Linked DNA regions of Homo sapiens: region 2 is linked to region 1. A link means that fine-mapping ties the variant in region 1 to the expression of a gene that starts in the linked region. Tissue or cell type: caudate. Region 1 holds a variant in brackets; the other region holds the start of a gene. All regions are shown on one strand. Distances are between the middles of the regions.

The links. PIP is the estimated chance that this variant, and not a neighbour inherited with it, causes the effect.
Region 2: it holds the start of GREM1, and the variant in region 1 is fine-mapped to the expression of GREM1 in caudate (GTEx, PIP above 0.99). The same link has a PIP of 0.9 or more in cerebral cortex, hippocampus, nucleus accumbens, prefrontal cortex, putamen and spinal cord.

Annotation. Positions count from the first base shown.
Region 1 is chr15:32,663,279-32,671,065 of GRCh38, reverse strand. All of the region lies in intron 10 of ARHGAP11A-SCG5 (ARHGAP11A-SCG5 readthrough), which reads right to left. All of the region lies in intron 2 of SCG5 (secretogranin V), which reads right to left. SCG5-AS1 (SCG5 antisense RNA 1) reads left to right here. Exons shown (of 4, transcript NR_135505.1): 2 at 1,948-2,066; 3 at 4,578-4,627; 4 at 5,149-5,364. It overlaps LOC124903458 (a long non-coding RNA gene), which reads right to left and starts at 7,475. Exons shown (of 2, transcript XR_007064573.1): 1 at 5,501-7,475; 2 at 3,946-4,263. RefSeq lists an enhancer at 352-884. The variant G/A (reference allele first, on the strand shown) is at 4,312.
Region 2 is chr15:32,715,901-32,720,900 of GRCh38, reverse strand. GREM1 (gremlin 1, DAN family BMP antagonist) reads right to left here and starts at 2,897. Exons shown (of 2, transcript NM_013372.7): 1 at 2,740-2,897. GREM1-AS1 (GREM1 antisense RNA 1) reads left to right here and starts at 2,036. Exons shown (of 2, transcript NR_109767.1): 1 at 2,036-2,356; 2 at 2,537-2,800. RefSeq lists enhancers at 1,597-2,174, 2,175-2,753, 2,891-3,391.

The DNA of each region.
Region 1 (7,787 bases):
ATGCTTGTGGGAGGATACAAATCGGATACTGTATGTAAAATGCTTACCTCAGTACCTGGTATGTAATAAGCACTCCATGAACGTTAGCTGCTTTTCCTATCTAGTCAACATTTCCTAACAGCACAATTAACAGAGCCGAAATTAATGATCCTGCATATTTTTCATTGTGGTGATCATGGTCCTGTGTTTGAGGTATTGAGCAACAGGGCTCAGGACATTTGAGCTTTTTACTAACATCAGTGCCTCCTCATCAATTCAAAACTAAATAAAGTCATGCTTTGCCTAACAAAGTTACAAATCCAGGCAGCATAATCCCTTCTCTCAAGGAGCTTGCTCTCCAATAATAGGGGACAAAATATGTCCACATAAACACACATCTGATGTTTGTGCCTGGTGGAAGAGATCATGAGCACTAGCGGAGAAGAGAAATTTGTCTCCCATAATGGGAAAATGAACACACAATAGTTTATACTTAGAGATGGATATTATCACCTCAGCTCTCCTCCCTAGTAACAGAATTTAGTTTAAGCTGTTTAGAATGGTGAGGGTTTATGTTGCAATATCCACATTCTCTAAACTCACATGACAAGTGACCCCCAAAGCACACAGCATTTGGTAATTGAGAAAAACAAAGGAATGATTCTATCTGTGCTGAATTGGCTAATTCATTGACTTGCCTCAGGGCAGAGGGCTGGCCCTGGCAGTTTGCTAGAGTGATCCTTCTGCTCTGAATTCGAGCCTGGTCCCTCACAGGGACTGCCCCACATAGCCGGCAAGGGCAGACACCCTGGCTGGCACTATCCTGTCCTTGTAGGAGAGATCTAAATTGGGTTGAGCCTGTTGGCAGATAAGCAAAATGAAACCCATTCGGATATTTTGTCTTGAAAGGCATTTGTTTTCATTCCTTCTCTTTCTTCTTCTGCTTTTCCCCCTCATACTAGGATCTAAAAAACTCAGGCTCCTTGGGGACCAAAGCCAACATTATCATCATCTACTCAGAGGCACGCAAACAGTGAAGGCAGAGACGCAAATTCTGAGTGCACTGCATTTGTAGCTTTCACATCTACATGTGGTCCCAATTTAGGATCACAAGCAGAGTTGTTTATTTTAGAAAAGCTTTTTAGTTAACTTTTAAGGTATTTTGCTTAAGCATTGCTTGCTTTCCAAAAGGAGAAAACGTGTATTTTTTTTTTTTTCTGAAGCGGTGTTTGTTTTGGCTGTTTACTCATTTGCAAAAGTTCAAATTTTATCCTATGAATTTAACTAATTTTTCTGTAGTCACCACAAACCCCACCCCCTCTAACACATACACACAAAACCCCAAAATAAAATAATCTGGAAGTGAAGCATTTTTAGGAGAGGTGTGAATTTAGCAGGTTTTGAAAAAGCCGTTTCAAATAGGTAATTTGCAATAGCACTTTTAGCTCCTTCATGTAACTTTTATTTGCCGTCTGAAATGAAGTCTCAACTTGGCAATTTGTATGAAGGCTAAGCATGTCTTTATACTAAGGTTAAGGCTCATGTTTGTCCTTTAAAAACTTTATTTTATAATTCTTGCTGAAATTATATGGCTTAGCTGAGGGTCAGAGTGGAGCTTAAGTTGAGGTATCAGTTATTATTGAAAAAATAACGGGATATAGAACTGTGGTGGTGGTGGTTGGGATTCGGTGAGGATATGGACACAAAACTGTGAAAAAGTAAAAATATGGACTTGGGCTCTCTAGCATCTGGTTCCATATACAGGCCTACCGCCTCCAATTATCTAAAGCTCCCACTTCATCTTCCTTTCTGAAACTACACTTACTTATGACATCATTTGTCCAGAACCTGAGCCCCACCTCTCTGTTCTCAATGACATAGCAGGTCCTATGTATCATTCCTTTGGGTAAGCTTCTCTACTAACATGATAATGAGTGCTAATTAACATGTAGTACTCTGCTCCTGTAGGATTTGCAACTTAGAGGATTTCTGGGATAATTCTCTTAAAGTAGTGACTTCACCAACAGGAATTCCAGGCCCCCTGGTGTGCCAGCTCAAGGGATAAGCAGAGTATGTCGGGTTCCCAGGTAAGGAAAAGGGGCAATGGCAATGACAATCCTGCAGGCAGAAATAAAGACATTAGGGGCCAAACCAGAGCCAGGTAAATGCATAGGAAGTTTATAATTAGTGACCCAGCATCCAAGGAGATAGCTTCCTACACTTAAGAAACGAGTAAAGGAGATCTGCAGGAGCTTAGGGAAGAGAGAAGCAATGAATGGCTGAGCCAACAGATGACATTAACACCAAGACACCACCGTGAGAGTGGAGGTGACCCTCCGCCCCAGACCCAAAGCTCTCTGATGGTTTCTGTTGAGGGTCACCTTCCAGTCAGCCTGGGCTTCACAGAGGAAGCAGGTCACTGGGGACTATGGTTGAGGAGGTGTGGATAAGGGTTAGCAGGAACTGTGTTGGACCCATTCTGGATGGGATGAGGTGGGAGTGGCAGGGCCTGGCAGCGCTGTGCCCATTCAGAGCCCCTTCCACCAGCTGACCTGGTTCCGCACTGGCCAGGGGAGTGGTCCTAGCACAGATTTTGGGTACACGGCTTGGGAATGTAATTATTCCATCATGTCACTTCCACCCATATGTCTGTAGACTAAAACGAGGAGACTCCATCTGAGTCTGACAAGGCCTTTTGGGCCACGACAAGGAACGTGATTCTCACTTGGCCTTACAAATTCGTACCTGAATTAATTACCATTCCTCTACTTCTTTTTCACTATCCTAAGCTGCTGTAAATCCATAAGTGTTCTTTATAAATGGCTAGAATAAACATTTGTTTTAGACAGTAATCTCATAGAAAATTCTTTTCTGTTTCTGAGTTCCCAGCAGCTACTACTATTTTTTGGCAGCTGGTGGTGGGGTGAGGGTTAATTCTAGCCTCGAGAGGAGAAGGCACGTGGTGTGTACGTTGGGGAGGGGCCCAGACTAAATCCTCTACAACCCTTTGGTAATGCTTTCCTGGCCTGTGGTTTCCCATCTCATACAAATATTCCCAATTTCTCTCTTTTATATCCATGTAACCTCTGCCTGGCAATAGGTATTAAGAATAAAGTGGGTCCGGTGGCTCATGCCTATAATCCCAGAAGTTTGGGAGGCCGAAGCGGGTGGATCACTTGAGGTCAGGAGTTTGAGACCAGCCTGGCCAACATGGTGAAACCCCATCTGTAATAAAAATACAAAAAAGTTATCCAGGCATGCTGGTGTGTGCCTGTAGTCCCAGTTACTCGAAAGGCTGAGGCAGGAGAATCACTTGCACCCAGGAGGCGGAGGCTGCAGTGAGCCGAGACTGTGCCACTGCACTCCAGCCTGGGCGACACAGTGAGACTCTGTCTCAAAAAAAAAAAAAGAATAAAACTACAACAAACCAAACAAAACAGTATTCACTAGTTATTATCAACTTTGTGCCAGACCTGGAGCCAGAACTCAATGTTATGTTAAAAGAGATAGACTCAAAGGCGGCCACAAAGCTGTGTGGACAGTGATGAGCAATTCGTGCCTTAAAGTCCAAAGGAGGTGCCTCCGGCAATACGCTCAGACAGCTGCAGCACTACACACAGACACTGGAAATACACCTCACAGAATTCTTCTGATTCTTAAAAATGGCAAGTCTCTTACCCACACATGGTAAAACGGGTGAAGAAAGCACACATAACTCAAATTCATAAAAACACCAAACTTATCTTTAAAAATGGGCTTCAACCTTCCCATCCACCCACTTCCAACCAAATTTTTAACTAGAACTATTGATGAAAAATAATGTTGGCCTGAGTCAGTTCTAGTCCCCTTTATATATTATTTTAAAATAGTATATAGCAGTGCTGTTCTATAGAAATAGAATATGAACTACATTTGTAATTTTAAATTGTCTAGTCTTCTCACTTCAAAAAGTAAAAAGAAATAGTGAAATTAAATAATTTTTAATCCCAATATATCCAAATTATCATTTCAACATGTAATTGATATAAAGAATTGCCAAAGAGACTTTTTATATTCTTTTTTGCATACTGTCTTCCAAATAGGGTGTGTAGTTTATACTTAGAGTACATCACAACTCCAGCCAGCCATATTTCAGGTGTTCAGTAGCCTCTTGGGCGTGGTGAATACCAAATCGGTCAGAGCAGGTGTATAGAGGAGGCTAGACATGGCGATCAAAAGTGCAGCCTGCAATCCAGATGCTTGAGTTTGAATATTGGCCTCATCACCTTAGCTGTATGACCTCATCTGTAAAACAAGAATACTTAAGTAATACCATCCTTAAGCCGTTGGTAT[G/A]AGGATAAAATAAAATAGTCCTTGTAAGGCTTTTTGCAAGAATTCTGGCAAATATTGTGCTTAATAAATGTTAGCTAGGGTGGTCACTTTATAATGCATGAGCTCTATACTTAAAAACATATGTGGTCCTGAACAAGTTATCTTACCTCTTTGAATATTAGTTTCCTTCTCTGTAAAACAGGGGTGATAATAATACTTCATTGAGAAGATTAACTGGTACAAACATAGCACTTAATAAATGTTCGTTTCTTTCTCCTTGACTTTAGGTGCCAATGAACAGAGAAATAGCCAAAGGGCTCGCTGAGTGGGAGCAGAGGTAAATGGGCCTGGATAATTGGAAAACTGGATAGTCACGAGGTTAACTATGCCACAGGCAAGAATCCAGATGGTTCCAACCTACCTCAGCCAGTGTGAGAATGCCCAGTAGATGTGTTTCTTTTGTAGTTCCTTTACTAGAAGCTTTATAAGAGCAGGCATGTTCACTGTTTCACAGGCTAATAGAAATAAAGTATGTATGTGCATCTTATGTAACATATCCCTACGTATGTATGCTGAATTCAGTAGGCAGCCATGTTCAGTATTTTAGAGCTGTAGCCATCACTCAACTCCCTTGTGTTGATAAGAAGAAACATTCGGGGAAAAGAAGACCTATTTGTTTATTGTAAGATTCAAAATCTCTAAGGGTAATGGCCTTTATTTCTTTCCTACTCAGAAGTTTGTTTTTCCCTATTTAATAGCTCATACAGGATTTTGAAAAAGGAAAACTTAAAAATTTTAATTAGAACCATATCCTAAATATCCTTCTGCTCTTCTGCATGTTTGTTTATTTTTTCTTAGGATTGATTTGTTCAGAGTTTTGAAATTACCAGGGAAGAGCTTTTGAGGATGTTTGAGATCCATGATTCAAAACAGGGAGGGACACATGAGTGGCAGGTGACATCAGAAGCCACCAGCCATTCCTCAAATTGCCAGCTCTGGAGCCCTCCATCCTGCACTAGAAGGAGATACTGCAAACCCTGCCAAGGTGTTCATGCTTCTCGTGCTTTAACATTTCAAAAAGCTCAATTCCCAAAGACAGTGAAACTGCCACGAAAAACAAAATGAACTCTGGATGACAAGGAGGCCCAGTCATTTCTCCTATCAATGGAAAGGGCAATTTTGATCAGAGACAAATAGTACTTGATTTTACCTATAGGGACTTATGACTTATTCACAGCTCTGACTCCTCTTCTCCACAGGAATTCAATAATGTAAACCTAATAATAAAAAATGACATAAAATGAATGTAATGAGAACACCCTAAAACTAGTTTCCCTCCTGGCCTATCTCCATGTTGCATCTTTCAGAAAGTGTCAGAAACGAGACTTAAACAAACAAATAAAAAAAAAAACCCCAAACCAGAACCTAATGCTGATGTGATCGTTTAAATAAACTAAACACAACTGGATAAGGAAGCTGTTTTACAAAAATAAAAATAGAAAAAAATTTCTTGACAAGAGGCATGGATTATTCAGGATCCCTGTGTTATTCTAATTGTTTCAGTGCTATTAGGTGCATTTTAGGGGAATGTGGCCCTGATGGATAAATGCACCTTTAATTCATTTCTAAGGCAGTGATGTGAGATATAAGACTTTTTTGGGTAGGCACAACCCCAAAAATGTCATGTAAATCTTGAAAAGTTTTTCATCCAAAAACCCCAAAGGGTTTACTCATCTCAACATCTGCATTTGATAGGCAGAGGGAGAAGAATGACTACAAGAGGAAGATTATCTGAGATTAAAACTGGAGACCTCCTAGAGGCTGGGCTCCCATAGGCACCCTGGCCCAGACCACAGCAGGGAGGGAATTCCTCCATTCTGCCTTTGTGCCTCATCTCCTGAGTTAGAGATGGTAGCTTAGTTTCCTTTCTTGGTTCCCTTCTGTATTCCTTACAGATAAAGAGATGTTCAATACACATGTGTTGGCAGAATGGCCTCCATTTTATAAGAGTGGAGGTGACTTAGCAGGACACATGCTATTTATACAAACAGAAGAACCTAGCAGCACAAACATGAGTAGGGATCTCTTTATTACTGCTCCTGGAGGTGGATTTATAGTGAAGTGAATGAGGGCCCCTCATGGGCGCAGACTGCTTCCAAGGCCTGGAACCTAACTTTTCATTTGCAATTGTGTGTTATTTTTCTTGAAAAAAGTTTTCAAATTGCATGAGTTTCAGGCCTCACAAAACTTGAATCTGCTGTGGATTGCTCTTAAAAGCGGTATACAAACGCCATCTTGGATTTTTCACCTGTCATTATTTTAACTCCTAGTCATCCAAAGCAAATATAAATCAATTAGTTTTGTAGCCATGGACAAACGAGGCCTGGGTTTCCTCATTTCTGAAAATGAAAGGTGATTGAATATGATTCCTCAGATCCCAAAAGAGAGCAATGTAGGGAAGGAGGGCACAGTGAGAAACAGAAGGAGGCAAAGGCTAGGACACCCTGGTGCTGGCTACACTACTAATAGCTGGCGTATGACCTTCAGTGAAGAACTTTACCTCTCAGGGCCTCATTTTCTCTACTATGAAATGAGGCAGGCAGACAAGACATTCTCTAAGGTCCCATCTTGTCCCATGATTCCAGTGCCCTGACTTGTGCAGTGTGTCACCTCTCATGGCCACTCTCACTGGGTGCTCACAGTAGCCCTGAGACTAGTCAGTGGAACACTCTGGTGAGCTTCAGAATTCAAATTCAGTGCTCTTCTTACTATACCACATGGGAGATATTTTCCAGCTAAACCGTAAACAAGGCTAATATCATTGGTTTGATGGCCTTCAAATATGCACTGTTGTCATGCCGAGTCAAAGATGATAGTCTGACATAAACCAGCGTTGCAGTGTAGATGTGGCGAATGACAAGGGAGTGGCTCCTTTCCCACAAGAGGCACTGGACTTGAAGCTGCAGCTGGTACAGCCCATCTGCAGGGAAATGCCATTTTCTTCTCATGCCTCTGTTCAAAACTTGAGTCCCACTGCTTACAGCTAGACAATCATTAGAATCACTGGTGGCACTGAAAAAAATCCCAAGCAGCTCAGACTCCCTGGAACTACCATATTTGAATTCCTGGAGAGATTAGGGGCCAGGAATCTTTCATTTTAAGCTTCCCAGGTAATTCTGATGATCCACCAGGTAGGAAAAGTATTGTTCTACGTAGTTTTCTCTGTCCTAGCCAGCCTGGAAATGCTGTTTCTTTTAAAACAGTAAGTCTATCTGGATACCCTGATGCCTCCTGCCACAAAGTCAAGCTGGTATAGCATTGGCTAGGACAAGCAGTGACAGCCACAAAAGACCACCTATTCTGATTCCATTTATATGAAATGTCCAGAAGAGGCAAATTCACAGACATAGAAAGTAGAGTAGTGGTTTCCAGGGTCTGGGGAAAGGAGACTGAGGGAAGGAGTAAGGAGGCAGAGATGGGGGGAATGGCTAAGGGGA
Region 2 (5,000 bases), 51 kb before region 1:
ACCGGTGTGAGCCACTGTGCCTAGCCCAGCCAGCAGTTTAAACCCAATTCTATCTAGCCCCAAACACAGGTCCTTAACCACTGTCCTATTGACACCCAGTGCTGTCCTTAACAGTGGGTCAATGGATATGTTTTCTAATGCAATACAATTTGAAGAGTGCTATAAATAAAATAATTATCTATTTTGTATCTTCATGTTCACATGTGAATAAAAAGATTTCTCTTGTCCCAGGAATTCCTGTTGTACTTTGAATTTCTAAGAGCATATGTTAAAACTAAAGAAAATTCCTTGCAGATCGAAGACACGGGCTGGTAGCACTTGCCTGATGGTTGCCTTTTGGTTAGAGGCTGCAGTCACCTCCCCTAACCACTGTCCCCCACCTGCCTTTCCTTTACATAAAAGGTTTATATTTCCTGGCTGTCCTTTACTCTCTGTTGTGGAACATGTTCCACAGCTTTGCTGTCAACAAGCAGTTCTTGGGGGAGGTGTCTGCGGCATGAAATTTCTTTGCATTTTATCACTTTTAATACTTGACCATTCAGACTGAAGGCATCTTCGGCTTAGTTTCAAAGACAGGGTAGGCAGCCCTCATTCAGAGATGTAGGACATAAAAGGTTTTTATCCTTCCCTGTGTAACTACTCACATAAAGACCGCATTAGCCAACCTGGATTTCCTACAGAGCGTGGGTTACCAAAACATTTCACTAAAAATGAACTTTTAAGAAAATAGGAAACCTGTGAAATTACAAAGTTTACAAAAGACTCTAATTCCTACAATGACCTGGAGGTTAAACACACACACACAGACACACACACACACACGCACACATACTGCCACTACCCTGCTAAAAATCCCTGAAATAGTTAATATTAACAATTTGACAGTGCCATTTATCCAGAGATAGTAATCAAATCACCTACTGTTATAGACTTGGCTTGGGGGGCAGTGAGAATATATAGTTTTCTTAAGATCTTTCCCTCCTTGCTTTGAAAAGTACATCCCCCCCTCAAGACTCTCATGCTCCCCCTCCTTCCAAAAAAAGAGAAAAGGGGAGGGGGAAGCCCTAGGGATGAAAGAGGACTCCTCACCCTAGAATGGGGTTATCTTAACCTCTTCTACGCTATTTATTTAACTTGTGTGTACAGCCAGAAGGAAGCCACTACTCTGGGGTCCCTGGGACAGCTTAAAACCCTAGTGACCCACTTAACACAATAGATTGTTTTAATCAGTTCGTGTCCTGGCACCATCTCGAAGGGGAACATAAACAGACGCGCACACCGCTCAGATTTGCTCTTTCCAGCAGGAGATCCAATTACCTATCGGTGGTCACCTCTCTGCCCTCGGACCGTTTAAGAGGGGGATTTTAACCCCTAACGCTGAGGCTGTATTTCTGTCTATAAGAGCCGAGATTCGGAGTCGGTCGAGGAGGGGAAGGCAGTAGACGGATTCGACCCGGGAATGCATTAGGGACAGCTCCGGGCGCGCAGGAATTTCTTCACAGCAGAGGCTGGTCACCTGCCGTCCGTCCCTCCCCGCCTGGCCCGGTGACCGTCGCCAGAGCCTGGCGCAGGCAAATAAACGCCAAGCTGGGGCACCCCCAAGGAGGAGCTGCGATCCGAAGGCAATGCCAAGCGAGAGCGGTGGCGCGTCTGTTCTTCCGGAGTCTGTAGTCTACAAATAACTCCGGCCAGCAAGGAGGTGACAGCCCCAATATACCTCCCACTCCCCTGCTATGGCCTTGCTCCGCAAGCTGTGGAGGGGCCAGCGGAGCCAGCCAGGCAGCGAGAGAGAACGAAAGACGCCCAGCTCGTTGCAGCCGCCAACCCGCCTCAGCCGCCAGTCCCTAGTCCTCAGGAGCTAGTGAGGCGCTGCAAGGCGAGGCTGGGGCCTCTAGAACACAGTTTAAGGGGTGCGCGCGGAAGTGGGAACCAGCCGGTGGCCGCTGCCCGGCGCCAGAACGTCTACCATTCAGCCCGGGCGTGCGCGGGGCGGGGAAGAGGCTGGAGTAGAGAAGCGAGCGCCCGCGAGTGCGTGGCCGGTCCGCGAGCGCGTGTGGTGTCTGCCTTGTGAGCACTGCGGGTTCGCTGGACCCCGCGGCCAGGGCCGCGCCCCGCACCGCAGCTGTCGGATTACCCACCGTTCGGTTTTCCGCTGTGGCTGAACACAGCGGCTCTGCCCTTGCCAGTCTCCATCTCACCTCGGGGATCGGCAAATGCACACATCATGGATTCTCCGGATGCTCCAACCCGCGGACTCCAATGGGCGCCCCAAGACGCCCCCAGACCCAGCGCGGCGCCCCAAGCACATGGGACCCTCTCAAGGCAACTCGCCGCGCAGTCAGCGGCCGACTAGCAGGTCCGGATGCTCCTGCGCTCTGGCGGCCTGGACTTCGCGCCCTCGCTAAGCGGGCGCGTCTGCCAGGCGCTGCTGCCACCAGCACCAGGAGCGTGTTCGGGGGCCTCCGGGAGGTGGAAACGGGATGTGGGGGTCATCCTGCCCGCTCCTGACAACTTTTTTTCCTACGTTTCCCTGCAGACCCAGAGCAGCGAGGTCACGGTGTCCGCGGCCTCAGCAGGAAGGACCCCGCGATGGTTCTTCACAATTCACCCCCGCGAACAACGCACCCGAGCCTGCGCGCACGGAGGGCTGCCGCGCGTGGAACTGAGCGGGTCCTGGGTTGGTTTGCGGCCCTCTTCCCTCCGCCCACTCACATCCCTGCCGGGTGCGTCCGCGCTCACCTGTCAGTGCGGCGGGTCCTCGGGGCCTGCGCTTTCGACGCGTGGCGCTGAGTGCGGCCGCGGCCAGAGCCGCCGGGGCTCGGCGCGGGGTCAGCGGGACCGAGAGTGACGCGGCGGCCGTGCACTGGGTCGCCCGGTCCGCGGAAGGCGCACCGAGTGCCAGGCATCGCGCCGTCTCCCGTTTAAATGCCGGCGGCAGAGCGCGGCGCCCGGGGCCGCGCCTCTCCATTGGCCAGGCGCCGCCGCCGCCGCCAGACCCGCTATCCGCCCCCTTTCCCGGTACTGCCCCCGCCCCCCGCACCCCTCCTGCTTCCCCGCGGGGTCCCCTCTCCGCCCGCCTCGCCTCTTTGTCTGCTCCCCCCGCCCGGGCCGGCTGGGAGAGGTCACCCCAGGGAACCGCGCCTGGAATGCACAGCAAATCACATTTTCCGCTCCCGTTGGAGAGGGAAGAGCGGGAGGAAATCCCCCCGGCTGGCGGCCCCTCATTCCTTCTCTGCCCCAGGTCTGGGCTTTCCCTGTCGGCCGCCCGGCATCGCCTGCGTTGGTCCCGCGCTCAGTAGCGGAGACTGCGCTGGGAAGAGCGAGATCTCCGTGGGATCGTGCCAGATTCGGCCATTCTTCCCCTCTGGAGGGAACGGGACTGCGGGATGCTCTGGTCGAGCGGCCGTCGTGGCTCCCCGGCGGCCCCGCCCGAGGCCCCCAACTTCGAGGGCGCTGACCCCGGCGCCCCCGTTAACCTGGCGGGCTCGCTGGCCGCCAGCAGGAGCCTGTCGCCAACATGACACCCTGCTCTCCTCGCCCGCCAAGGGTTCTTTCAGCCCAGATGCCGGCGGCCTCCCCTGTGAGTGTACAGAGGGGAGTCACGGGAGGAGAATAAAACTAAATGACCGTCAAAAGTCAAGGCTTCTGTTCCTAAATTATCTTAAGAGACAGAGAGAAAACAGCCACTGGGCGAGAGGGGTTTTCTGTAGCATATCAAAGACGAATAAGTCAGGAAAATAAAACGTTAGATGAGGAAGTAACTTCCCAGAAATTTAGGACAAAAACCTACCGACGTGTAAAACCAATGTCACATTCCGGATACCAAGTACATAAATAGTTTTCGAAAGATGAGCGAACACTTTCATTTGTTCTCTTAGCCTGAAAAATTGGTTCCTCAAAGAGGCCGTAAGTTTTGTGTGTTGAAGCTAAAGTCCGTGCAAAAATTAACACGTCTGCAAGATCTGCAGACCAGCTCCATCAGCCACGTCAAATGAAGACTTTGAAAAAGATTTGCTACAGAAGGAAATATGAAGGTGTCTGTATTGTCTAACGCGAAATAAACAAAACAATGAAATCCATCAAAAGATACTTACGAAACACCCGTAATTTAAGTACTTGACTAGGAAAACAAAACCAGACCAGAAAACAGCCTATTTTTTTTTTCTCTTTAGTCCGGCGTTAGGGGGAAGAAGCAAGAAACATCTACTAGATGCTGTTAGGAACGTGAAATAGATATTTTTAAATAAATGAAGCAAGAAGGACGTCTGCATTAGTATCCTTAAAATCTTAGTCCTCTCAATGTTTTGTTTGTGCAGATGGCAGTTTCTACACATGAACTCGAGGCTGCACTTTACAATTCTCAATCAGTTGTTGTTAAGTCATGCAGTGAGCCACAGTTTGTAGTTGCCTACAGAATGGGAGCATTGAACCAGCTTGAAGACCTGTCTTGCTCACGTGGGCTCCTGGAGAGATAGGTAATCAGAAATACACAAAATACTTAGGCGATGACCAGTTCAGTCGAAGCCCACCACCAAGCTGTATTGGAGCCAGCTGTTCTCCCAACGTGCAAACTGCTGTACTTCTCCCCACAAAAGGGAGCATATTTTACAAATTCATTAAGTCCTCCTCATCTAAAATAAAAGCTTTAGTCACTTCTTTTTTTCCCAAGACTTATATACTGCCCCAAATCAAATACAAAGAAGCTGAAATTACCTCCCAAAATGGAAGTGATTTTTTTTTTTTGGAGCCCTGACACTGTGGTTTTCTCTATCTCCATGTATCAAATCATGATGACTCTTCCTCATGCAGTTTCTCAGGCCATATTTTTTATAATAGAGCCCCCACCTCCTCCCCACAACACACGCCCCCTCTCTGTATCCCAAAGAGATAGAGAGGGCTATGCATCACTGCATCATTTTTCTTCATTCTCATTTCTCTCTCCCTTCTCCCTGGCATTATAGTATTTCCTGCCACTAGAATGTAAGGTTCATAAGGGCAGG